Linked DNA regions of Homo sapiens. The protein of the gene in region 3 purifies or fractionates together with the protein of the main gene of each other region. This does not show direct contact. Each region holds a gene or a part of one and is shown on either strand. Other genes may lie near its edges.

What was found.
Region 1: the proteins of POP1 (region 3) and PPIL4 purify together in Homo sapiens (affinity purification with mass spectrometry, with the first as the bait; one large-scale study listed by BioGRID). This does not show direct contact.
Region 2: the proteins of POP1 (region 3) and FAM76B purify together in Homo sapiens (affinity purification with mass spectrometry, with the first as the bait; one large-scale study listed by BioGRID). This does not show direct contact.
Region 4: the proteins of POP1 (region 3) and RCL1 purify together in Homo sapiens (affinity purification with mass spectrometry, with the first as the bait; one large-scale study listed by BioGRID). This does not show direct contact.
Region 5: the proteins of POP1 (region 3) and EPB41L2 purify together in Homo sapiens (affinity purification with mass spectrometry, with the first as the bait; one large-scale study listed by BioGRID). This does not show direct contact.
Region 6: the proteins of POP1 (region 3) and RBM34 purify together in Homo sapiens (affinity purification with western blotting; one study listed by BioGRID). This does not show direct contact.
Region 7: the proteins of POP1 (region 3) and DDX42 purify together in Homo sapiens (affinity purification with mass spectrometry, with the first as the bait; one large-scale study listed by BioGRID). This does not show direct contact.

What each region holds. Positions count from the first base shown.
Region 1 is NC_000006.12:149,539,544-149,543,043, reverse strand, and holds part of PPIL4 (peptidyl-prolyl cis-trans isomerase-like 4), read left to right. Parts: intron 1-1,457; coding exon 1,458-1,525; intron 1,526-1,612; coding exon 1,613-1,677; intron 1,678-1,984; coding exon 1,985-2,102; intron 2,103-3,500. UniProt on the Homo sapiens protein: PPIases accelerate the folding of proteins. It catalyzes the cis-trans isomerization of proline imidic peptide bonds in oligopeptides.
Region 2 is NC_000011.10:95,783,283-95,786,782, reverse strand, and holds part of FAM76B (protein FAM76B), read left to right. Parts: intron 1-508; coding exon 509-664; intron 665-3,500. UniProt on the Homo sapiens protein: Negatively regulates the NF-kappa-B-mediated inflammatory pathway by preventing the translocation of HNRNPA2B1 from the nucleus to the cytoplasm.
Region 3 is NC_000008.11:98,130,793-98,134,292, forward strand, and holds part of POP1 (ribonucleases P/MRP protein subunit POP1), read left to right. Parts: intron 1-3,156; coding exon 3,157-3,244; intron 3,245-3,500. UniProt on the Homo sapiens protein: Component of ribonuclease P, a ribonucleoprotein complex that generates mature tRNA molecules by cleaving their 5'-ends. Also a component of the MRP ribonuclease complex, which cleaves pre-rRNA sequences.
Region 4 is NC_000009.12:4,834,444-4,837,943, forward strand, and holds part of RCL1 (RNA 3'-terminal phosphate cyclase-like protein), read left to right. Parts: intron 1-3,500. UniProt on the Homo sapiens protein: As part of the small subunit (SSU) processome, it plays a role in 40S-ribosomal-subunit biogenesis in the early pre-rRNA processing steps at sites A0, A1 and A2 that are required for proper maturation of the 18S RNA.
Region 5 is NC_000006.12:131,056,746-131,060,245, reverse strand, and holds part of EPB41L2 (band 4.1-like protein 2), read left to right. Parts: intron 1-3,500. UniProt on the Homo sapiens protein: Required for dynein-dynactin complex and NUMA1 recruitment at the mitotic cell cortex during anaphase.
Region 6 is NC_000001.11:235,130,683-235,133,966, forward strand, and holds the end of RBM34 (RNA-binding protein 34), read right to left. Parts: intron 1,316-3,284; coding exon 1,031-1,315; 3' UTR 501-1,030; downstream 1-500.
Region 7 is NC_000017.11:63,780,670-63,784,169, forward strand, and holds part of DDX42 (ATP-dependent RNA helicase DDX42), read left to right. Parts: intron 1-3,500. UniProt on the Homo sapiens protein: ATP-dependent RNA helicase that binds to partially double-stranded RNAs (dsRNAs) in order to unwind RNA secondary structures. Unwinding is promoted in the presence of single-strand binding proteins.

The DNA.
Region 1 (3,500 bases), on a different chromosome or scaffold from region 3:
TGCCTAAATTCATTATTTTTGTTTCTAGTAAAAGGACCACCCCTATCTGTTAAACATGAAGCCCAGAAATATATTCAAGAAAAACAACTGCAAGACTGATATTCAGCACTCTTCAACAGCTCAGCCCCATCTTATCTCTCCAGTCTTTTCATGCTCTATTACTGTGTAATACCAGACTATTACAGAACTTTGGTGTTTTGGACCTCCCCTAAAACATTTAAATTTCCACTTCCAGGCCTTTTCATAGTCTTCCAGACCTAAAATGCTCACCCTTCACTCTCTGCTAGTCCAGTTCTTTTAATGCTTGCCTTAACCTTCCCTGAGGTTTTCTAATTTCCCTAGCCAGAAACAATCTTTTGAACTCTTGTGGAATTTTTAAAACTACTTTTTTTACCATTTTAAATAAGTGGCACACATGTTATTAATTAGATATGCCCAGTATGTAACTACTTGTGTTCAGATGTAAGGACCCTAATTTAATGTAAGCTTTTTGAGGGCAGGGATTGCCTCATATATCTTACTGTCTGTTTGGTTTCTAACTTAGTGCCTTAAGAGCTTGTTAATGTGTCTTTCCACGACTAGACTGTGAACTTTTTGGGAGCAGGGACCACAGTTTAATGGCATTTGTGATGGCAGTGTCAGGCATCTAGAAGGTACTCAGTAAATGTTTATTGGATAAGCAGATTAACTTGTATGAGAAAGGTTGTTCATAAGTGTATGGATTTTTATAAAGGGCTGTTTAACTATTATTTAAAAAATGACCCCGGGTGTTTGACTTTTTCCTAATTGATATAATCCGTATCCATTTTTATATATTCTGCTAGATCCTTTTCTACTACAATATGCTCTTTAAGTGTTCTTTTTTCTCGTAATAAAATCAATCCATCAGTAAATGATTGCTTATAAGTGTCAGTTTTCTGTATTAGCCCAGATGCCCCAAAACTCCTATTAAAGGAAAAAAAAAGGTAATTTAAAATGTTTTTTTTCTAGACTTATTGCCCTTTTATTTTATTTTATTTTATTTTATTTTGAGATAGAGTCTTGCTCTATTGCCCAGACTGGAGTGCAGTGGTGCGATCTTGGTTCACTGCAACCTCCACCTCCTGGGTTCAAGTGATTCTCCTGCCTCAGCCTCCCTAGTAGCTGGGATTACAGGTGCCCGCCACCATGCCTGGCTAATTTTTTTTGGTATTTTTAGTTGAGACAGGGTTTCACCATATTGGCCAGGCTGGTCTCAAACTCCTGACTTCAAGTGATCCACTCACCTCCGCCTCCCAAAGCGCTGCGATTACAGGTGTGAGCCAGCGCCCGGCCTATTGCCCTTTTTTATAGCTTTGGACATTTGACTTTTTTTTTCTTTTAATAGTAATTTAGAAATTACATTTTACTGTGGCTTTACTTATTTAAAAATGTGTTTGTGGATTACTGTGATAAATTTGGTATTTACTTTCTTTCAGCCTGCTTGAATTTCTTGAAACTGTGCAAAATAAAATATTACAATTATTGCCTTATTCACAATGTACAGGTGAGTTGGTAGATATTAGTCATTTCCTTTGTTATTGGAACTATCTAACAAACTCTGTGAATTAACAAAGAATCCTACATATTACAGAGGGATTTTATCATACAAACTGGCGATCCTACAGGGACTGGCCGTGGAGGAGAGTCTATCTTTGGGTAAGTTGTTTTATTTATTTATTTATTTATTTATTTATTTATTTATTTACTTTTAACCTCTGGAAGGGCAGAACAAATTCTTTTATTCTTAAATGAGGAAAAATATAATTGCTCATGCTTCAATCTGCATTTTAAAATATGGTTTAAATTTAGATTTTTTCCCCCAAGTTCCCTAAAAAAAAAAAAGTAATATTTTGAATTCTGTTGGCATTTCTGTAAAGAAATAATTGATAACCCTGTATGTTACTAGTACTTCTGTATTTCATTTTGAGAGTACTTACATTTATAACCTTATATGTTTTTTCAGCCAACTGTATGGTGATCAAGCAAGCTTTTTTGAGGCAGAAAAAGTCCCAAGAATTAAGCACAAGAAGAAAGGCACAGTGTCCATGGTGAATAATGGCAGTGATCAACATGGATCTCAGGTTAGGAAATGAGTAAGAATATGAGATTTGCTTAGAAATGAAGGACTGGAAGGAGCCCACAGAGTTATTTTTTAAACTATCCAGTAAGGCTTAGAGGGTTTCAATCAGAAATATGTGTTAGGGGAAAAAATGCACTTTTTCTATATTAAAAAATATTATTTTCTTCTTTTAAATGTAAAGCATTCCTATTGTGAAGAATTGAGAAAATACAGAAAAGTACAAAGAAAAACATTACCTACAACTCCACCATCCGTGATTATCACTGTTCACATTTGTGGCTCATTTTTCAGTATTTCTTTTTATTTAATTAATTAATTTATTTTTATGAGATGTAGTCTCACTCTGTCTCCCAGACTGGAGTGCGATGGCACAATCCTCGGCTCACTGCAACCTCTCCCTCCCGGGTTCAAGCAATTCTCCTGCCTCGGCCTTCCGAATAGCTGGGATTACATGCGCCTGCCACAACACCTGGCTAATTTTTATATTTTTAGTAGAGACGGGGTTTCACCATGTTGGCCACGATGGTCTCAATCACGTGACCTCATGATCCGCCTGCCTTGGCCTCCCAAAGTGCTGGGATTACAGGCGTGAGCCACCGCGCCTGGCCGTTTTTCAGTATTTCTTACTTTTTTAAAAACATTACGCAGAGTACCTTCTATTCATTGTCTTGTTTAATTCTCCCAATGACCCTGTTAATTCTCCCAATGACCTACTTGTTAGAGTAGGTACTTCTGTTTTCTACTATATACACATGAAGTTGAGTCATGGCTTGTCTAAGTATTTTGTTTTATTTTATTTTATTTTATTTATTTAGAGACAGAGTCTTGCTCTGTCAGCCAGGCTGGAGTGCAGTGGTGTGATCTCGGCTCACTGCAACCTCCGCCTCTCAGGTTCAAGCGATTCTCCTGCCTCAGCCTCCCGAGTAGCGGGATTACAGATGCCCACCACCACGCTCGGCTACTTTCTGTATTTTTCGTAGAGACAGGGTTTTGCCATGTTGGCCAGGCTGGTCTCAAACTCTTGACCCCAGGTGATCCACCTGCCTTGGCCTCCCAAAGTGCTGGGATTACAGGTGTGAGCCACCGTGGCCGACCAAAAAATACTTTATTACTAACAAGTGCTTCTGATCATCTGAGCCTTCAGTAAATCATAATCTTTTTGCTGGTGAAGGGTCTTGCCTTGATGTTGATGGCCGTTGACTAATCTGGGTGGTGATTGCTGAAGGTTGGGGTGACTGTGGCAGCTTCTTAAAATAAGACAACTGACTGGCGTGGTAGCATACATCTGTAATCCCAGTACTTTGCGGGGGCAAGGCAGGCAGATGGGTTGAGCTCAGGATTTCGAGACCAGCCCAGGAAACATGGTGAAAACCCCATCTCCACAAAAAAATACAAAAAT
Region 2 (3,500 bases), on a different chromosome or scaffold from region 3:
TTTATAGTTTATGTTGAATATGCTTGTTCTCATTTTTTCAAAGTTGAAAACTCACAGTATATATTCCTTATATGATTTGTACCTATATGTGATGAAAAGTTAACATTTTCTAAATAAATGATATGGTCATTAAGGTAACTAGGATATTAGTAGAAGGACGTTTCCTCAAATTCTTGATTCATGAGACTTCTCTACATATGTACCTTTATTTTCGTTCTTTAAAACCTTTTTTATGTGTAGTTTTTGTATTATCTAACAGACTATGCAAATCACAAATCTATTTCTCACGATCTTAGAGTAATAGTTACATGACTAGAAATAAATACTAGTTGAATGCATAGAAATATGGTATAAAAGTTATTGCATGTGACAGGGCAACAAACTTGACAGAAAACAAATTTTTTACCTGAGTTTTCTTAATTCCAGAAATATGTCTACAACACTGGGTATATGCTATGCCGCAAATATTTAATGTTTTTAAAAGTCTCAAAATGTGTATGTTTTTCAGCCCAAGCCTTGTCAGTACTGTAACATAATTGCAGCATTTATTGGTACCAAGTGTCAGCGTTGCACAAATTCAGAAAAAAAGTATGGACCACCTCAGACCTGTGAACAGTGCAAACAGCAATGTGCTTTTGATCGGAAGGAGGAAGGAAGAAGAAAGGTATGCTTTATTTATGTTATGACATCTTCTGGAAATTAAATAAAATGCCAAACAAGTTGGAAATTATAATTAATACACTACTGAGACTGGATCTATTCTTTAGGTCCATGAAAGCAAGTAGTTAGATGAAAGTGCAGGAATAGTGAGTTTTCTCTTTGTTTGCATGATACATAGATTCATGTACTATACTTTAAAAAATATTCTATGGTGGCTATTCTGTACTAGTTGGCTATCCCACATTTGGTTCAGGAGATTTAACTAATTGCTTAAATATCTCCTTTTACTTTACCCTTTTGCTAGTTACTTGACATCACTGGTGTGAAAAAAATACCTGATGGCACATTGGCACATAAAATTCAGTTACTCTTGTGCCTTTTGATAAAGGCTCATATTTGAAACTGTTGTTTGTTTTTGTCTACCTGCAGTGACTTAATGTAATAAGTATTTGTGTTCATGTGATAATTCCTTTGCCGATCAGCATTCACACAGGCCTCCTGTTGCCTATCAATTTTAGTTGATTTGGAGAATGACTACCTCTTTGAGGGGCTTCCTCAGGTCTCCCCACAGCAATGTACATATCCCATTATAAGACATGTCCCTCCAGCATGTCTGGTACATAAACATCATGGAATACTATGGATGGAATACATGTGAACAAACAGAAGATAAAAACTTGGTTTTATTTTTAGAGGTTTAGTCAGTACTTCTGGAAAGTCTCTTCTTTGACACAGGTACGATTGATTCTCATTATTTGTGGTAGTTCTTTAAAGTTCCCACAAAACAGTGAATACGGTAGTACCCACCTTATCCATGGGAGATACCTTCTAAGACCAGTGGATGCCTGAAACTGGGGATAGTAACGAACCTTACTGTGTTTTCTCCTGTACATACGTGCCTATGATAAAGTGTAGTTTTTAAATTAGGTATAACAGGAGACTAATAAAAATAATAACAAAATAGAACAATTATATTAGCATACCCTAGTTACAGTTATATGAATGTGGTCTTTATCCCTTAGAATAGTGTATTGTATGTAATATTTTTAGACTAAGGTTGACTATGGGTAACTAAAACTGTAGATAGGGGAGTACTGTATTGAAGCATTGCCCAAGAGAAATATAGGATTAAGTTCACATTTCCAGTAATAACATGTTGGTCAGTTGATCAATATATAACCTTATTTTGTTTGTGTTCCTGTTTGAAGATATCTCATTTAATGTATACTGTCGATTGGCCAGGCATGGTGGCTCATGCTTGTAATCCCAGCACTTTGGGAGGCTGAGGTGGGTGGATCATAAGGTTAGGAGATCGAGACCATCCTGGCTAACACGGTGAAACCCCGTTTCTACTAAAAATACAAAAAATTAGCTGGGCATGGTGGCAGGCACCTATAGTCCCAGCTACTCAGGAGGCTGAGGCAGGAGAATGGCGTGAACCCGGGAGGCGGAGCTTGCAGTGAGCCAAGATTGCGCCACTGCACTCCAGCCTGGGCGACAGAGACTCCGTCTCAAAAAAAAAAAAAAAATTGTGTGTGTGTGTGTGTGTGTATATATACACACACACACTGTCGATTAATTTAATTGCACTCATGGCCAACAGTGCTAAGAGTGCCTGAACATAACTTATGTAACACACATATTTTCTCTTTAAGACACATCACAGCCTTCGTAGCTTTCCTTTTTTTAAGTTCAGGGGTACATGTGCACGTTTATTATATAGGTAAACTTGTGTCATGGAGGTTTGTTGCACAGATTATTTCATCACCCAGGTATTAACCCTAATACCTATTAGTTATTTTTCCTGATTCTTTCCCTCTTCTACCCTCCACCATCTGATAGGCCCTAATGTGTGTTGTTCCCCTCAGTGTGTCCATGTGTTTTCATCCTTTAGTTCCTGCTTATAAGTAAGAACATGCAGGATTTGGTTTTCTGTTCTTTTGTCAGTTTGCTAAGGTTAATGGCCTCCAGCTCCATCCATATTCCTGGAAGGGACATGATCTTGTTCTTGTCTATAGCTGCATAGTATTCCATGGTATATACGTACCATGTTTTCTTTATCCAGTCTACTAACGATGGGCATTTAGGTTGATTCCATGTCTTTGCCATTTCACATTACAACCTTCTTGAGCCTAGGAACACTATACAGCACTTTGGCAGTACTCTTTGGGACTATAAAAACTTGAAAAACATGGCACTAAACAGACTGTGAAAAGGATACTTGTCTGAGAGGTGAAATAAATGAGGCAGAGCATCACCTTGTTCCACCTCAGCTGAGAATGTGTGCTATTGGGTGGCACAGATTTTTCACCACTCTTGTGTATGTGTGCAGTGGCCACAAAAGTGCTACAAGTCTTGATTTTTGGGTTACAGATACATTTTACTAGGTAGGCAAATACACGAATAGGAAATGCAAGAATAATGAGAAGCAACTCTGTGTGTCATTTAGATGCTTCTGTTTTTCTGTAAATTTACAGTACTTACTGTAGTGAAAAATTATTAGTAATGACACAGCGATATAAGAATTCAGGCTATATTTCTTGGAAGTATATCAGTCAGTTTATGCTTATTCTCCTGGAATAAGAAAAAAGGTAACATTTTCTTTTTCTTCAAATTAAAAATGCTTCAAAACTGATGTCATCCTCATCAGTTTTATAATTCTCCTAACAAGTATTTTCTCAAGTTTCAGAAAAGTCCAGTTTTATTTCTGTTTTGCAGAAAATCCGTGAATATGTGCATACATGCATTTGTGCATGTTACGTGTGGAATATAGGTGGAAGTTGAGTGGTTTATCTTACCTGGTTTCGTTTACAGCCAGTTTATATGGGTACATTTAATTT
Region 3 (3,500 bases):
GAATGCTGGTCTAGGTGTTTATGGGTCAGTGGGATGCTGGGAAGGATGTTTTAAATTTTAAACGCTTTGAGAGGACAGATTATGTTAGAGCCTCTTAATAGTATTTATCTGATTGCTCCCTCCTCTCAGAAGCTAATTCAGTTGCTTTCTATTTCTTCCAATACATACTTAGACATTTGTTCTTTGCAGAAGGGCCTATCTTTCAGTGGCAGAATGGCCTTGGCCAAATTTTGAAAGCCATTACTATTGGTGTCCTTTGATACCCCTTGAGAGTAATGTGGTAGAATAAGCAATACAAGAATCTTTTTAAAAAATTGTGGTCAAATATACATAACAAAACCATTTGACCATTTTAAGTGTATAGTTCTGTGGCATTAAGTACGTTTACGTTGTGTAATCAGTACCACCATCCATCTCCAGAACTTTTTTATCCTTCCAAACTGAAACTCTCGACTCATTAAACACTAACTCCCATTCCTTCAGCCCCTGGCAGCCACCATTCTATTGTCTATCCAATAATTTGATCCTATAGGTGCTTCATAGGGGTGAAATCATACAATATTTGTCTTTTTGTGACTGGCTTATTTCATTTAGCATAATGTCTTAAAATTCATCCGTGTTGTAGCATGTGTCAGAATTCCCTTCCCTTTTAAGGCTGAAGATGTATTCCATTGTAGGTATATACCGTATCTTGATTATTCATTTATCTGTCAGTGGACATTTGGCTTACTTCCACCTTTTGGCTATTGTAAATAATGCTGCTGTGAACATGGATATGCAAATATCGTTACAGTCCCTGCTTTCAGTCCTCTTGAATATATCCCCAGAAGTGTAATTGCTGGATCATATGATAATTCTATGTTAATTTTATGTTTAATTTTTTGAGGTACTGCCTTACCATTTTCCATAGCAACTGTATCATTTTACATTCCCACCAGCAATACACAAGGGTTCCAATTTCTCCTCATCCTTTTCAGTACTTGTTACTTTATTTATTTATTTGATCACAGTCATTCTAATGAGTGTGAAGTGAATAAGAGGACCTTTTAGGAGTCTTTGATTTGAGAACTCAGCAGCAGAAATCATAGATAATAGTCAAGTTCCTCATTCACATTGAGGAAGCTGGGTTCTGGAGAGATGAAGTGACTTGCCTGGGCTCACACAGCTTGTTGGTGGCCTACATAGCACTTGGGTGGCTGATTCCCCTGGCTTGTGCTTTTTCCACTGTCCTCTGCCAATGAGTTACTTTTCATTTTGGGCATAATTTTTGCTGAAGTTATCAGATATTTTCTCTAAAATTTGATCAGCCCTAAGTAATAAAACTAATAGCTAATAATAACAAATATTAGTGAGTGCTTAATATATGCCCTACCCTGTTTTAAATGGTTTGCATGTGTTTACTCATTTAATCCTCAGAATAGTACGAAGTAAGGAGTTACCATTATTTCCATTTTACAGATGGGGAAACTGAGGTACAGAGAGGTTAGGTAGTTTACCCATGATTGTATGGCCAATGAGTGTTGAGGTTCAGATTTGAGCCCAGTTGCCTGACTCCAGGGTTCCACACTCTGAACCATTATTCTCTGCTGTCACTTGTTTGGGTGAGGTTCCTCTGGCCACTGACAGCTGAGAGCTGGTCACTGGATGGGAAGATTTCTTTGTGTGAGTGATCATATTGATTGACATGCGTTGTCAGAATCATAGCTATAATTTCCCTTTTAGTTCTAGTTACTGAGTGCACTGAAATTGCTTAAAGATGCTATAGCAGAAGGGTTGGTTTGGCAGATCACTGAGCCTGATTAGAATGCTGGCTTCTCCACTTAATGACTGTGTCTTTGTTCAAGTAACAATCTCTGTGTCACAGTGTCCTTGTCTGTCAGATAAGATAACCATACTAGGTACATCTGGTTGTCAGGAAGACTAAATGACTGTTCATGTAAGGAGTTAACTCATTGCTGGCACTCAGTAACCCTTCAATGACTATTAACTATTATAGGCCAGGCATGGCAGCTCATGCTTAGAATCACAGCATTTTGGGAGGCTGAGGCAGGAGGATTGCTTGAGCCCTGGGGTTCAAGACCAGTCTGGGCAACATAGTGAGACTCTGTCTCTGCAAAAAAAAAAAAAAAAAAAAAAAAATCTGGGTGTGGTGGCTCGTGCCTGTAGTCCCAGCTACCTGGGAGGCTGAGGCAGGAGGATTGCTTGAGCTCTGGGGTTCAAGACCAGTCTGGGCAACATAGTGAGACTCTGTCTCTGCAAAAAAAAAAAAAAAAAAAAAGCTGGGTGTGGTGGCTCGTGCCTGTAGTCCCAGCTACCTGGGAGGCTGAGGCAGGAGGATTGCTTGAGCCCAGGAAGTTGAGACTTCTGTGAGCTGTGATTGCGCCTCTGTACTCTAGCACTGGCAACAGAGTGAGACCCTGTCTCAAAAACAAAACAAACTGTTAGAATTATTATTATAATTATTATTATGGATACTATAACTATTGAAACTTTTAACATTGATTTCATTAGCTTAGTCTGATCTCTCTTCATCTTACTTGAAATTGTATGTTATTACTTTTACTTTCTTTGTACTGTGCTTAAAGTTGCATATCATGGTCAAGACTGAGTATGGGAGAAATATGGGATGGATTAATTGCAATATTGTATCTCTAGGCTTAGTGTTAAGTAATCTTGAGGTCCTGAATTAGCTAACCAAATTGAGCAACCTGAGCATAATTTTGCAGAATTCATTACTGTTTTGCTTATTTTACTCTGGTTTCTTACCTTAGGTAGACTTTGGGGGTGAATGGTTCTCTACTTAGAGGCAACAGTTATGTACCCTCCGTAGAACCTGTCTATGAATATGGGATAAAACATAGATTACCTAAAAAGTAGGATACCGTAACTTACATTTTAAATGGAGATTCATTTTTATTTTGGTTCGGGTTGGTTTAAAAATATTTGTTAAGGTGACAGGAATGGACAGGTTTAGATATTTTTTCCACTAAACCATCGGGCAGGAGAAGGTTTAGATTTTGACTTATGAGAACATAGCTTTAGCAATTTGTTTTGTGTCTTAGGCCTCTAAAGGTTTTGTGATACGGCTTTTGGCTTCTTAGCAGTTTTGCCTGTGTAAATTCCTAAGTACTTAATTGTGTCTCCCGCTTTGTGCAGGATTTATCCTATTACTGTTGTTTGGAGTTGAAAGGCAAAGAGGAAGAAATACTAAAGGCGCTTTCTGGAATGTGTAACATAGACACAGGTAAACTTGTTTTAAAGCTGAGTTCTATTTTAGTCTATGTATATTTATTCATTTCATAAAGAAGTGTCTACTGTAAGCATTTTGGAATTCAAACATATAGAAAAGTGTGTGAGACACTAATCATTCCCAATGAAAATGTTAACTTAAAAACAGTTGGGTTGGCTTTTAAATAATTTCTAACATTGTCAAGTGTAAAGTGATAGAGTCATTTTTCTGGTGGAGTGAACTTGACAGAAAGAAACTTGAAGCTCTCATT
Region 4 (3,500 bases), on a different chromosome or scaffold from region 3:
CACCATGACTAGATTGATTGAGTCATTCTTTTTTTTTTTTTTTTTTTAATTTTCCGGTTAACATTTAGGCAAATGGCTCTGATGTATGTGATCCTCTCTCAAGGGCTTTGGTTTGGGGGCCATGAATATACTGCAGTTCCTCCCTCAGAAGACGTCATCATTCGGTGAAGGAACCAAATATGAAAACACACAGTTCTGATATAACATGCAAAATGATATGTGCAGTGGGGTGGGGGCCTGGAGTAGACAGTGGTCAATTTTGTCTGGAGGACCTAGGGAGGCTGGAGTAATCATAATGAATGATATCTACTATTAAGTATTTACTCTGCATCTACTTCAGTAGTCACTTTACATGCTTTTAAGCCTCACATTGACCCTTGAGTTCACTTACATCCTTTTTTGCAGATGGGGAAACTGAAGCTTCAAAAGCTTAAGGAATTTCTTAATAATGTCACACTGCTAATAATGACAGAGCTAGGATTTGAACCTGGTCTGTGTGACTCTAAAGTACAGGCATTTAATTTTTACTTTTGCCTATAGAAAGGAGCCTTGAAGAACAGAGGATTGCAAAGTAGAGCAAGAAAGGAGGAGGGCTTCAGGCAGAAAAGTGGGCCTGAGCAGAGGTGGCAGTGCACAGTGGTTCTAGGGAGTGGCAAGTAATGAAGTGTGGCCAGATTTCAGGTTGGTCTATGGCATTTGATGGTAGAATGGGGCATGAAGACAGGCAGGGGCCAGTGAAGAGCTGAAGGTGGCTGGAATCAGATACTATGCAGAACGCAAAGAAAGGAGGGTGGAACCCTGTGAGGCCACCAAAACTTGAAAGCAAGAGTTAAGTAAGGAGGGAAGTAAGAGTGGGGAAGAGAATAAACAAAACATAGCTTCCTGGAAGCTCAGGTCAGCACTTTAAAAGGCCCTGAGGAGTTAGCATTGGGGTGGGGGAAAAGCTGAGGGACTCAGCAGCAGGCTGTCACTGATGCCCTGGGGAAGAGTGCTGGATCCCTATCCCAAGGGACTAATTCTGGGTTGTGGAGTGAAGGGGAGGGAAACAGCGGCTTGTGGGGACCACTCTTTACAGAACCTTGACAGGAAAGAGAAGGAGAAGGAAGGATGAGGGAGTAACTTGATGAAGCGAGAGTCAGGGAGACTCCCTCCCTTTTACAAAAAGATTGGTAAGGATTTGAGTGTTTTTGTAGGTTGTTAATGTAGATGAAGCAAAGTAATGAGCTGATTAAAAGCCCAGGTGCTGGAGTCAGAAAGACGTGGGTGCCGACGCCGGCTGCGCCACTTACCAATGGAAGCATTTGGCCGTAAGCCTTGGTTGCCCGTATATCTTTAGTCCTGTTATAACTGCTGTGCGAGACTGTCATGAAGGTAAAATGAGATCGTAGTTGCACAGTAGGAGGCACTGGTGTGTAAGTAGCATTGGGTAAATGGTTACTACTATTCTTTTTATTCTTACTTGAGAGGGGATGGATTCAAGGCCACAGGCATACGGTAAGGGTGGCTCCAGGTAGAGCTGTGTGGAGGTGAGTGGAAGGGGGTTGGGATGAGTTTTCAGTTGTTACCGAGTTAGGATGGGATTGAGGGTAAGGGGATGGGCGGGGTAGGATAAGAGAGTGTGACAAGGATGGTAAAGATGTGCCTTCACAGGGGAGCATCATAACTGAAGATAAGAAAAAGGCTGTGTTCCAGCAGTAAGGTCCTTGCTGAAGGTGTAATGTTAACACAGTGCCAGCTGCATGGCCATGTGGCTATATCCAGTGGCAGTTGGCAGCCTAGAGGGAGGAGTAGAGAACGTGGGAGGACCAATTTCATCCAAGGTTGGATGCAGGTTGGCAAGGTGGGTGGGTCCTACAGGAGGACAGTTGGAGGGTGGGTGCTGGAGCATTGGGAAGTACATTCCTCACTGAGGATTGTCACAGGGGCTCACCAGCCTGGACAAAGCAGGTCAAGGGATGAGAAACTTTAACAGGCTTAAAGATCAGATCTAGTGGAAATAGATACATGTACTGTGTAGGACAAGAGATTGTGTTTAGGGAGTTTTGTTTTGGGATTTCAGATATTAAAAGTGGTAAAATTCTAGGTGCTGACAGGATCTGGGTGGGAGCAGGTGTTGGAGGCCGTAGAGCAAGACAGGCTGTGGGATGACTTTCCTGGCGGGAGTGTGACAAGGAGGGCAGACCAGAAAGCCTGCTTGTCAGGGCGGGGGTGGGTGCTTAAGGTCGGGTTTTGTGTTCTCAGGAGGTTTGGCAATGGTATTACTTGGAGGAAGAAAGGTGTAGCGTGGACTGTCTTTTCAGAGGCCTCGAATAGCTTGAACAGTAAGTGGTGAAGGGCAGGGAGTAGGGTGGGCTGCAGAGCCATGTGCAGAGAGAGTGCTGGTTAAGATAGAAGCTCAAACTTGGGTTGCTGCCTGAAGTTCTTTTTAAGGATCATCAAAACCACAGGAATACATAATAACAAAGCCTTCCTGGGTTATGGTCTGTTCTCTGCATGGCTGTCCCCCAGCCCATGTAAGCGCCCAGCCTTGTGTGTACCAGGAGAGAACAGGCAAAAGGAGAAATGGTTCCTTTCCTAGGAGCCCCCAGGTTGATGCATAGTTACATTGCCCAGGTGACTTTCTAAGGTGATATTCAACTCTAGTATCCAAATCCGAGGAGCTGGAATAAGGTTAATTAGGTTACAAAGAAATGGAAATGCAATGTAACTAGGTGTGTGTTTTTGAAACCAAATGTGCCTTTTCTACTTGAATTCATTCTTATTAACAGATGCATTGTATTCCACCATATATAGAACCCAAAATCAAATCCTGTTGATGGCCATTGAGTTGTTTTTTGCTTTTCACTGTTGCCAAATACACTGCGGTTAATGGCTTTAACCACAACATTTTTGGCAATGGTGAAAAAAAGTGTAATAAGTGTATAGGAATACACTTTCCAATACATTCCAATAAGTGTACAGGAATACACTTTCAGTACTATTTTGGGTTTGTCTGGGGGGTAGTTGTTTTTTTTCCTCCTTATTTGAGATGTGTTTCCTTAATGCTGTATTGGCGGCCGTGAACTTTGTTTGGAATCCAGTCTCTGTAGTCTGGAAATGTGATTTCTGGCAGTGTGCTCTGTTTTGACACAATCTTGTCATAACAACATGGGTTTCATCACAGTGGGGTCCCCCTTGTTCTCTCTGGGTGTGCAGATGGTCGTGTCCTTTGATGATGATGCTGGGAAATGGGGAAGGGCTTTCCAGGGGAGAACATAAAAGTTAAAAGAGCTGTAGTGCCGGGCACCTTGGGTGTAACTATGTTCCTCCCTGGCTTCTCCCTCTAATGTTCTTGGAACCTTCCCTGTGTAGAATCTGAGCCAGGAAGAGACTTGTGAGGTCCCAAGTTCCTCCCTCCCTGGAGGCAGGGGATAGGACATGGAAATCATCCCCAATATATCTCTGACTGGTTGAGGCTTCCTCCTGGCTCCCCAGGAGAGTTGACACAGTGCCCTTTCTCA
Region 5 (3,500 bases), on a different chromosome or scaffold from region 3:
ATTTTATATAGCAGAATGCTAAATATTTTTGAAGGTTTTGTTTTGTTTCTGTTTCTACTCTGTCTCTACTAAAAATACAAAAATTAGCCGGGCATGGTGGCGCACGCCTGTAATCCCAGCTGAAGACATGGGCCTTTTTCTTTCTTTTTTGAACTGAAGTAGCCTGTTTAAAAGCTATGTGTGGGCTTTTTATTGAAAAGTGTGAATTGCTACTAGTTTTATAAGGCAAATAAACAGTTTATAGGGATCAATACCACTGAGTCACATTTTGCATTTCTAAAATCTGTGCTGTTTACTTGGAGAAAACAAAAGAAATGTGCCTACCTCCTCCATCCCACCTTTATTTAGAAACATTTCCAGTGGGCTTGTTTTTTTCAGATTCAGAATTACTGTACCTAACCACTGGGTACCCTTACAGATTTCAAAGCCTGAAGTAAATGTTTATGCTGGCTTTCGTAGTCAGCAAATAATAGCCAAACCCTAATTCACTGCTCTTTTATAGAATCTTGGAATCTCAGGGCTGAACCGTTAGGAGTCAGCAGATCCACTCTTAGCCCTAGTCTCTTCCTCTCAACATGCAAACAGTTCTAATGTCTTTGGAATGTCTGAGCAAATAGAAGATTTGTATGCGATTCTGTCACCAATTCTAGACAGAACATCCTTTGGGATGCCATGTTTTGGCATAAACCAGCAACTTGATATTATGAGATTTGTATCATTTCTCTGCGTGGGCAGTGCCCTAGACTAAAATCTAAAATGGAGTCAATGCCTGATGTCATTAACTATAGGGAAATGGCCTCCAAGTTAGCTATTAGAGTTGTTTAGGAATTATAGCTGGGCGCGATGGCTCACGCCTGTAATCCCACCTCTTTGGGAGGCTGAGGCGGGTGGATCATGAGGTCAGGAGATCGAGACCATCCTGGCTAACACGGTGAAACCCCGTCTCTACTAAAAATACAGAAAATTAGCCAGGCGTGGTGGCAGGCATCTGTAGTCCCAGCTACTCGGGAGGCTGAGGCAGGAGAATGGCGTGAACCCGGGAGGCAGAGCTTGCTGTGAGCGGAGATTGCGCCACTGCACGCCAGCCTGGGTGACAGAGCCAGACTCCATCTCAAAAAAAAAAAAAAAAAAGTTATAGGTAAGCCAAGAAGGAAAGAAATAAATAATCTCAGTTATCATCTAGAAATGATTTATAGTTTTTGTTGCTGTTGTTGTTTTTATTTTGTTTTTGAGACACAGTTTCACTCTGTCGTTCAGGCTGGAGTGCAGTGACGTGATCTTGGCTCACTGCAACCTCCGTCTTCCCAGTTCAAGTAATTCTCGTGCTTCAGCCTTCCAAGTAGCTGGAATTACAGGCGTGTGCCACCATGCCCGGCTAATTTTTGTATTTTTAGTAGAGACAGGGTTTCACCATGTTGACCAGGCTGTTCTTGAACTCCTGACCTCAAGTGATCCACCCGACTTGGCCTCCCAAAGTGTTGGGATTACAGGTGTGAGCCACCGCACCCAGCCGGTTTATAGTTATAGCTAATAGATTTTGGTAGCTTTTTCTATAAAGTATGTGTATGTGTGTGTATTTCATATGAGAGAGGGAATATTATAGGTATTTGTGATGTGAAGCACCTACTCATTGTATTTAATAAATATTTGATGAATTAATTCATTGAACCTTTAATATATTAGAGGTGAAGAATCTTTAGTGAAGATTCTTTGATAGAGTTGACATAGAAATGGGTAATGTTTCATGTAGAAATATCATGTCGGTAATGTTTATTTGCTTTTCTAACCACTGATATTGTTTCTCCTGGTTTTGTGGTTGGCTTGGGATCTGTGTTGTAAGTTTCTTAGAGGCATGTTTTTCATGTCTAGGAGAGTAGATAGGCTATATATTTCCATGGTGTTGGGATAGTATTAATTTTAATTAGAATTTCAGAGGCTTTCTGAATTTTCTTATTTTAAAGTGATGTCTCTTACTTCTTGGCATTGGAATAGATTTCATGTGATCTATGAGTGCATTCATACTGCTTCTGGATATTTTTTCTTCAAAGATTGCAATTGAGCTAATTTCATATTCTCAGTTATCTTTAAAATGGAAACATGTTTTCACTTCACAGATACCTCTCTGAATTTTGCATATTTTCACTCTACCTTATTAGAGCCATAAAGTCAAAAAGTACATAGATTGTCTCCCAAATAATCTGGAATAAATTGAAGGATAAGAACAATCTTTCCTGAGATCTGACCTGTATCTTAAATAAGGTTTTGCTTTAGATAGCCAAGTTGAAATTTTGCATAGATAACTAAGTTCGGCATCATGGGGATCATTTTAGTTCTTTCCAGGTTAGGAGGCATGGAAAGGCTCCCAAAGTGGTTTTGTCACTGTTCATCTATCGGACCTTATTGCCTAGGTCAGGTAGGGTAGTTCATGCATTTAAATCAAATCTTTCTGAAGAGACCAGTTTCCTCTTGCTTTGCTCTTAGGGCCTCACCATCAACCTTCATGAAAGAATTTTCAAATACTTAAAAACTTATGTTACCCTTCAGTTGCCTTTTTCCAGGATAATTGTGGTTTTAAAAAGCTTGTCATATAGTTCTGATTACCAACTCTGAAGTCACCTTTTCCAAGCCCTTGTATTTACGTTTCCAGACCTGCTGATGAGCTTCAGGGCTGGGCCATTATAACAACAGTGCTGAATTCACTCATATTTTTCAGAGTTTCCTACATTCTACTGATATATGTACATATCCCAGTAGCTTGAAGACATAAAATTAAAATGTGATTTACACTCTGCCATAATTCTTTGTTTCTTTCTCTTTTTGTCCAGAAGCTACTTGTTTTTCACCCTAGATTCATTTACCTTGAGGGAGATTATTTGGTTCAGACTCCTGACCTGGGGTGGAGAGTGGGGTTCTTGGGCCTCATGGGTGCATAAACTGCCTGAGACTGTAAGTGAGGTATTGTGTTCCCATGTGCATGCACTCCTGTGTGTGTGCAGCATCTCTGTGTGTGTGTGCACAAGTGGATGAGAGAGACAGGTTAAGGGAGAAAGAGAACTTTAGGAGTGGTTTTTGAAAGGGTTTTGGGAAACAGAAAAGATTGAGAACTGATGTTTCAGTTCTTATTTTCGAGATTAGAAGATGGAAGTTTTAAGAGTATTTTGTTTTTCTCTTTTTTTTTAATTTTTTCACCCTATTGCACTTTTCATCATTTATTCTCCCCTATCTCCCATTGTACTTCTTTCCATTCAATTGAATTCATTTAGTTGACCCCCATTTACCTAACTGTCAAGGTTAAACTGAATTCTGATATAATCCTGGCCACTCATATTCTTACCTGTGAACTTAATGAATGTGCATTTATTTCCTTACAAATTTCTTTGATGGAATATTGATTAGAAGGAATCAGTAACATGTCCACTCTATTTGATGCTGGTTAGACTGCCACATATGCCATTGTGACCTTGGGCAAATTATTTCTCAAAGCCTCGTTTGCTGTAGTA
Region 6 (3,284 bases), on a different chromosome or scaffold from region 3:
ATTTTTAGTAGAGATGGGGTTTCACCATGTTGGCCAGGCTAGTCTCAAACTCCTGACATCTGGTGATCCACCCACCTCGGCCTCCCGAAGTGCTGGGATTACAGGCATGAGCCACCGTGAGTGATCTTCTTTATTTTCTTAATAAACTTGTTTTCACTTTACTCTGTGGACTGGCCCCAAATTCTTTCTTAGGCAAGATCCAAGAACCCTTTGTTGGGGTCTGGATCTGGATCCTTTTCCAGTAACACGAGGTTGCATAATAAAGAATTTGGCTGGCCTTTGTCCCCAGTTCCTGGGAGTTCTAGCCCCTTGGAATTGATGAGTGATTCACTCCTGTAATCCTAGCACTTTGGGAGGCCAAGGTGGGAGGATCACTTGAGTCCAGCAGTTTGAGAGCAGCCTGGGCAACAAAGTGAGATACTGAAGCGACATCGTTTGGGGTAATACCCAAGGTTCATTGCTTCATGCCAAGGAAATCAAGAACTTGAGCACACACGGAGTAAGGTTAAGAGCAGAGGTTTAATAGGCAAAAGAGAAAGGAGGCTTGGGTGCAGTGACTCACGCCTGTAATCCCAGCACTTTGAGAGGCCAAGGCAGGTGGATCACCTGAGGTCAGGAGTTCGAGACCAGCCTGGCCAACATGGTGAAACCCCGTCTCTACTAAAAATACAAAAAATTAGCCAGGCGTGGTGGCAGGCGCCTGTAATCCCAGCTACTTGGGAGGCTGAGGCAGGAGAAGCGCTTGAACCCAGAAGGCAGAGGTTGCAGTGAGCCAAGATCACGCCACTGCACTCCAGCCTGGGAGACAACAGCCAAACTCCATCTCAAAAAACAAAACAAAAACAAAAAAACCTTCAAAGGTAGTATCACAATGTGAATAAACTGAGAATGTGGAAGTCTCCACATTTCACATACACCATCCATAAAGAAGTATAAAACTCAACACATGAATAGCAGACGATGCTATCAGCAGATAATAGCACTTTTATTAGCAGTACTCAGCAGGAAAAGAAAAAGCAGTTCCTGGTTGTTATTTCTGTTTTCTCTGTTTCTTAGGGCGTCCACTTTTCTTCTGTCCTTTCTTCTTCGTTTTAAGGAGAACAGCTTTTTCTCCAATAAATAAGCTTTTAGGATGTCCTTCTGCAGTTTTGGAAGTAAAATTAAGTCCCTGCTTAGGTTTACTGACATTCTTCAATCGTGGATTTGAATTTTGTTGTTTAAATTTTTCTTTATTAACAGAACGCATGACTCTGAGTTTTCTCCCCATGAGTTCAGAATTATTTAATTTCAGAGCAAGATGAACAGAATCTGTATTCTGCAAAAGAAAACACAATACATTAATTGCTACCAGAAACCCATCTGCAAAGAAACTAGTGAAAGTGTCACTTTAACAGATGAGAACGACTTTCAAGCTTGCACAGATAAGCCCCATCCAATCCCAGGTGTATCAGCTGCTGCACTCGAAGTCTCCTCATCACCATGCTCGTCACCAGTGTTTCCTCAGAAAGCACTCAAGCTGCCTTGTGAAATGTTCAGCTAAGTCACAATGCTACAGGCTTCGTGGTTTTTTTTTTTCATTGTAAAATGAGGTTCTAGACTAGATTAGTCATATGCAATATTGGCTTTTTTTCTTTTTTCTTTTTTTGAGACGGAATCTCGCTCTGTTGCCAGGCTGGAGTGCAGTGGCACGATCTCGGCTCACTGTGACCTCTACCTCCTGAGTTCAAGCGATTCTCTTGCCTCAACCTCTCAAGTAGCTGGGATTACAGGCGCGGGCCAACATACCCAGCTAATTTTTGTATTTTTAGTAGAGACAGGGTTTCACCACGTTAGCCAGAATGGTCTCGATCTCTTGACCTTGTAATCTGCCCACCTTGCCCTCCCAAAGTGCTGGGATTACAGGCATGAGCCACCGCGCCTGGCCCCCATATGCAATATTTTAAACGAATAAACCTCCTTCGTATAGCCATCTTTCTGTCAAAGCCCCATTGTATTAGCTGACCAGAGGGCAGGGAACGCTCCATTACGAGATGTTGGACTAGACACCCTCTAGGGTTCCATTTAGATCCAAAATTCTGTTATACTTCTGTTCCAATATAGAGCCATTAATGCTAACAACCCTGAATATCCATGAGATGTTTGTTAAAGGACTTTAGAAGCTTATCAAGTAATAGAAGAAAGGGAGCAGACAAGCAGAAAGGTAACTACAATACAGTAACAATGGCAACAAACGCTGTGACAATCTTTCTAAAAAAGCTACCAGGCAATTCTCATCAAGAGTCTTCAAAATGGTAACACATCTTAACCTAGTATATCCTAATGGGGATCTATCTTAAGTAATCTACAATCCAAACTTTTGGGGAAAAAAACATAACCAGGCCAGGCGGGGTAGCTCACACCTATAATCCTAGCACTCTGGGAGGCCAAGGCGGATAGATCACTTGAGCTCAGAAGTTGGAGACCAGCCTGAGAAACATGGTGAATCCTGTCTCTACAAAAAAATACAAGAATTAGCCAGACATGTGGCACACACCTGTAGTCCTAGCTACTCAGGAAGCTGAGATGGGAGGATCGCTAGAGCCTGGGAGGCAGAGGCTGCAGTGAGCTGAGATCGTGCCAAAGCACTCCAGCCTGAGCAACAGAGTGAGACTCTGTCTCAAAAACAAAAAACACATAACCACTGCAATTTCATTATTACAGGGAAAAACAGAGAATTCTACCAAGGTCCAACATGAGAGAAATGACAGTATAAACTCTGTTATATCACTCAATGGAACATGCTTACATAACAGAAAACAACATAAAATAAGATGTAAATATAATTTAAGTTCACAGAGACAAGTTCAACTATAAAAATGGCAGCACAAGGAAAAACTGAAAGGAAATGTAGTAATGGGTTGTTACTGAGAGAAGAAAAATTTATGACATCACATAGTATGTACAGTCAGCTCCCCAAATCCGTGAGTTCAGTATCAGAGGATTCAATCAACTGCAGATAGAAAATACTTGAAAACAACAAATAATATGACAATAAAAAAATTTATTATATATAACAATATACATTCATGCAAATGTGCCATTTTATATAAGGGACTTCAGCATCTGCAGATATATATATACTGTTTGCTATGTGAGAGGGATCCTGGAACCAATACACCGTGGATATCAAGGGATGACAATAGATTATTTTTTTGTTTTGAGATAGGGTCTCACTCTGTCAGTTCGGCTGGAGTGCAGTGGTGCAATCATGGCTCACTACAGCCTTGACCTCCCGTACTTAAGCA
Region 7 (3,500 bases), on a different chromosome or scaffold from region 3:
AAGGATCGCTTTTCCAACTTGCTAAGTCTTGAGAGCCAGTAAGCAACCCTCACCTGCCCAAGGTCTCACTGCCTGCCTGTTTGTGGCAGGAGTTGATTTGCTGCTTTTGTAATATGAACCTTTTGATTATTTAATAGGGCTGATTCATAGTCATGTTTGTTCTTTTCACTCCTTCCCTCTAGCTTTGGGGGAAGAGTGAGTTACTCCTGTTGTTAAAAGTTTTGATTGTGTCTGGTCTTCTCTGGAAATCCTATGACTTTTTTCTGTCATTTTGCATCTTCAGTTTTTCAGACTTTACTGGTTTTTCCCCTTTAGCATATAAACATGCCTATGTTTCTTTAAAAAATAAAATTTCTGTAGGTAATGCTTCACTTTCTCCTTCCTATCATTGATAAACAGCCTACAAAGTACTCTTGACTCCTCTTGACCTAGTCTTCATCTTCTACTACTTACTTGCCAGGTACTCCTCAACCCTGTCCCTACTGCTCCATTGAAACTGCTTTCACTGATGACTCCTGGTTGCCTATACAACAGAAGAATTTTAGTTCTTTTTGTTTTGTTTTTTTGAGACAGAGTCTCGCACTCTCGCCCAGGCTGGAGTGTAGTAGCCGGATCTTGGCTCACCGCAAGCTCTACCTCCCAGGTTCATGCCTTTCTCCTGCCTCAGCCTCCTGAGTAGCCGGAACTACAGGTGCCCGCCACCACGTCCGGCTAATTTTTTGTATTTTTAGTAGAGATGGGGTTTCACCGTGTTAGCCAGGATGGTCTTGATCTCCTGACCTTGTGATCCGCCTGCCTTGGCCTCCCAAAGTGCTGGGATTACAGGCGTGAGCCACCGTGCCTGGCACATTTTAGTTCTTAACTTACCTAACTTCTCTTTAGTTTTCTGCCTATAGAGCTTCTTTCTCCTCACCCGTGTTCCTCCTTGTCTCCCCTTCCTTCTTTCCCCCTCTTCTTTCTTTCCCTTCCCCAATCCCTGTTCCATCTGAAGTTTCCATGTAAGCTTCTCTTTTTCTGCCCATTCCTAAATAGTGATATATGTTAAGAATTGTCTTACTGGGCCGGATGTGGTGGCTCACGCCTGTAATCCTAGCACTTTGGGAGGCCGAGGCAGGTGGATCACGAGGCCAGGAGATCGAGACCATCCTGGCTAACATGGTGAAACCCCGTCTCTACTAAAAATACAAAAAATTAGCCGGGCCTGGTGGCAGGTGCCTGTAGTCCCAGCTACTGGGGAGGCTGAGGCAGGAGAATGGTGTGAACCCGGGAGGCAGAGCTTGCAGTGAGCCGAGATTGTGCCACTGCACTCCAGCCTGGGCGACAGAGTGAGACTCCGTCTCAAAAAATAAAAATAAAAAAAGAATTGTCTTACCAGCTGGGCGCAGTGGATCACGAGGTCAGGAGTTTGAGACCAGCCTGGCCAACATGGTGAAACCTGTCTCTACTAAAAATACAAAAATTAGCTGGGCACGGTGGTGCGTGCTTGTAATCCCAGCTACTCGGGAGGCTGAGGCAGGAGAATTGCTTGAACTCAGGAGGCGGAGGTTGCAGTGAGCCAAGATCATGCCATTGCCCTCCAGCTCTGGGCGACAGAGCAAGACTCCGTCTTGGGGAGAAAAGAAAGAATTGTCTTACTTCTTTTCTCACTCTGCATGGTCTCTCTGCTAGCTTATTTACATCAGTAACCTCAAATGCAAATGGCTTACATCAAATCTATAGCTCACTCCGGACCCCTCTCTGCAGTTACTGCCCCTGCTTGGCATCTCTACTCAGCTCTCTCATAGATACTGAACTCACCTTTTGCCTAATTTTGCAAACCTGGCTCTTTTAGGTTTCCATCTCCATTAGTGGCTCCACAGTTCACCCAGTCTTTAAAGCCAGAAACTTCTGAAGTTATTCTAGACTCTTCTTCCTTAGCTTCCACACCAATTACTGGTCACACAATCCTAATTGATCTTTCCTCAGATATCTAAATAAATAACTCAGATCCATCCCCCGTTTCTCCTTTCCCACAGGTGCTTTCTTAGTTCAGAATTTTGTCGCTTTATACCTGCGTTGCTGCAACAGCCTTCTACTTTCCTTGCCTCTACCATGAGTATCTCTCATTCTGTCTTTCAAAAACACTGATCTGAAAATTTCCCTTCTGTGTAAAATTAACGATTCTTTGTAGCTGGCAGAATACAGTTTTGTATGGTACGTCGTTAGCATAGCCTTCTAAGCTGTTCATCTTGGCCCTACCTGTCTTTCTGAACATGTGTCCTGCAAATTTCCCAAATGTGCTACTGAACTCTAGCTGCACTGAACTATTTCTTGTTCTCTGTGGTAACACTTAACAGATCCTTCCATCTGAAATGCCCTTCTTTAATGCCTCTTTGATCTAATGCCTCTTGAGGTTTCAAAATTTAACATGTCATCTCTCAGAACACTTCTATGCCTTTGCTCCCACTCATGGACCACCAGTGAATGCACTCTGTATAGTACGTCTGTTAGAACGCATCATGTTGTTTTCAGCTGCCTCAGACTGCACTGTCTACTCCTTGAGAACAGGGACTGTATCTTTCATGTATGAATGCCTAGCACATCATATACCACCTGACCTTCTCAGCAAGCTTTCAGTAAACCATTGAAAGTTTTCCTGCTAGGAGATTGTGTGATTCTTAAAATCCACCTGAACGTAAATGTCTTTCCACTATCCTTTCTTTGCCTTCTCATCCTTATGGCTTATTAGCTCCTTGTTATACATTGTATACACTAGGAAAAATGAGATTAAAATTGAGCCCATCCTTTTTGTTGCTTGGGAACACCTCTTGTAAAGATAGCTTATAGATTAGTTTAAAAACGTCAGATGCTGAAATTTTCTTGCTTGTAAAGATTCTTACTAAATTTCATCACACTGGAATTACGTTGATTCCTTGATTGAAGGAATCCCCTTATGGGATTCCGAAAGACAGCAGGAGATGAAGTTCAGGTAAATTAGTACTTACTAAATACATACCTTAGTCATTCTCACTGTTAGAGAAGGAAGTCCAAAATGAGTAAAGACAGTTTCTATCTGGAGTTAAGGGTCTAAGTAGAGATTGATGTAGTGTAATTCAAGTTTAATACTAAGCAGCCTGGGTGCCGTGGCTCACACCTGTAATCCCAGCACTTCGGGAGGCCAAGGTGGTTGGATTGATTGAGGTCGGGAGTACAAGACCAGCCTGCCTAACATAACGAAACCCCATCTCTACTAAAAATACAAAAAATTAGCTGAGCCTGGTGGCACACGCCTGTAATCCCAGCTACTCGGGAGGCTGAGACAGGATAATCACTTGAACCATGGAGGCAGAGGTTGCAGTGAGCTAAGATTGTACCACTGCACTCCAGCCTGGGAGGCAGAGTGAAACTCTGTCTCCCAAAAAAACAAACAGACAAACAAAAACCTTAAAACTAAGCAAACAACTAAGTGCTGTGTATAATAGCAGTTGAACAAAACCTATGAAGTATATATAGACAAGGGG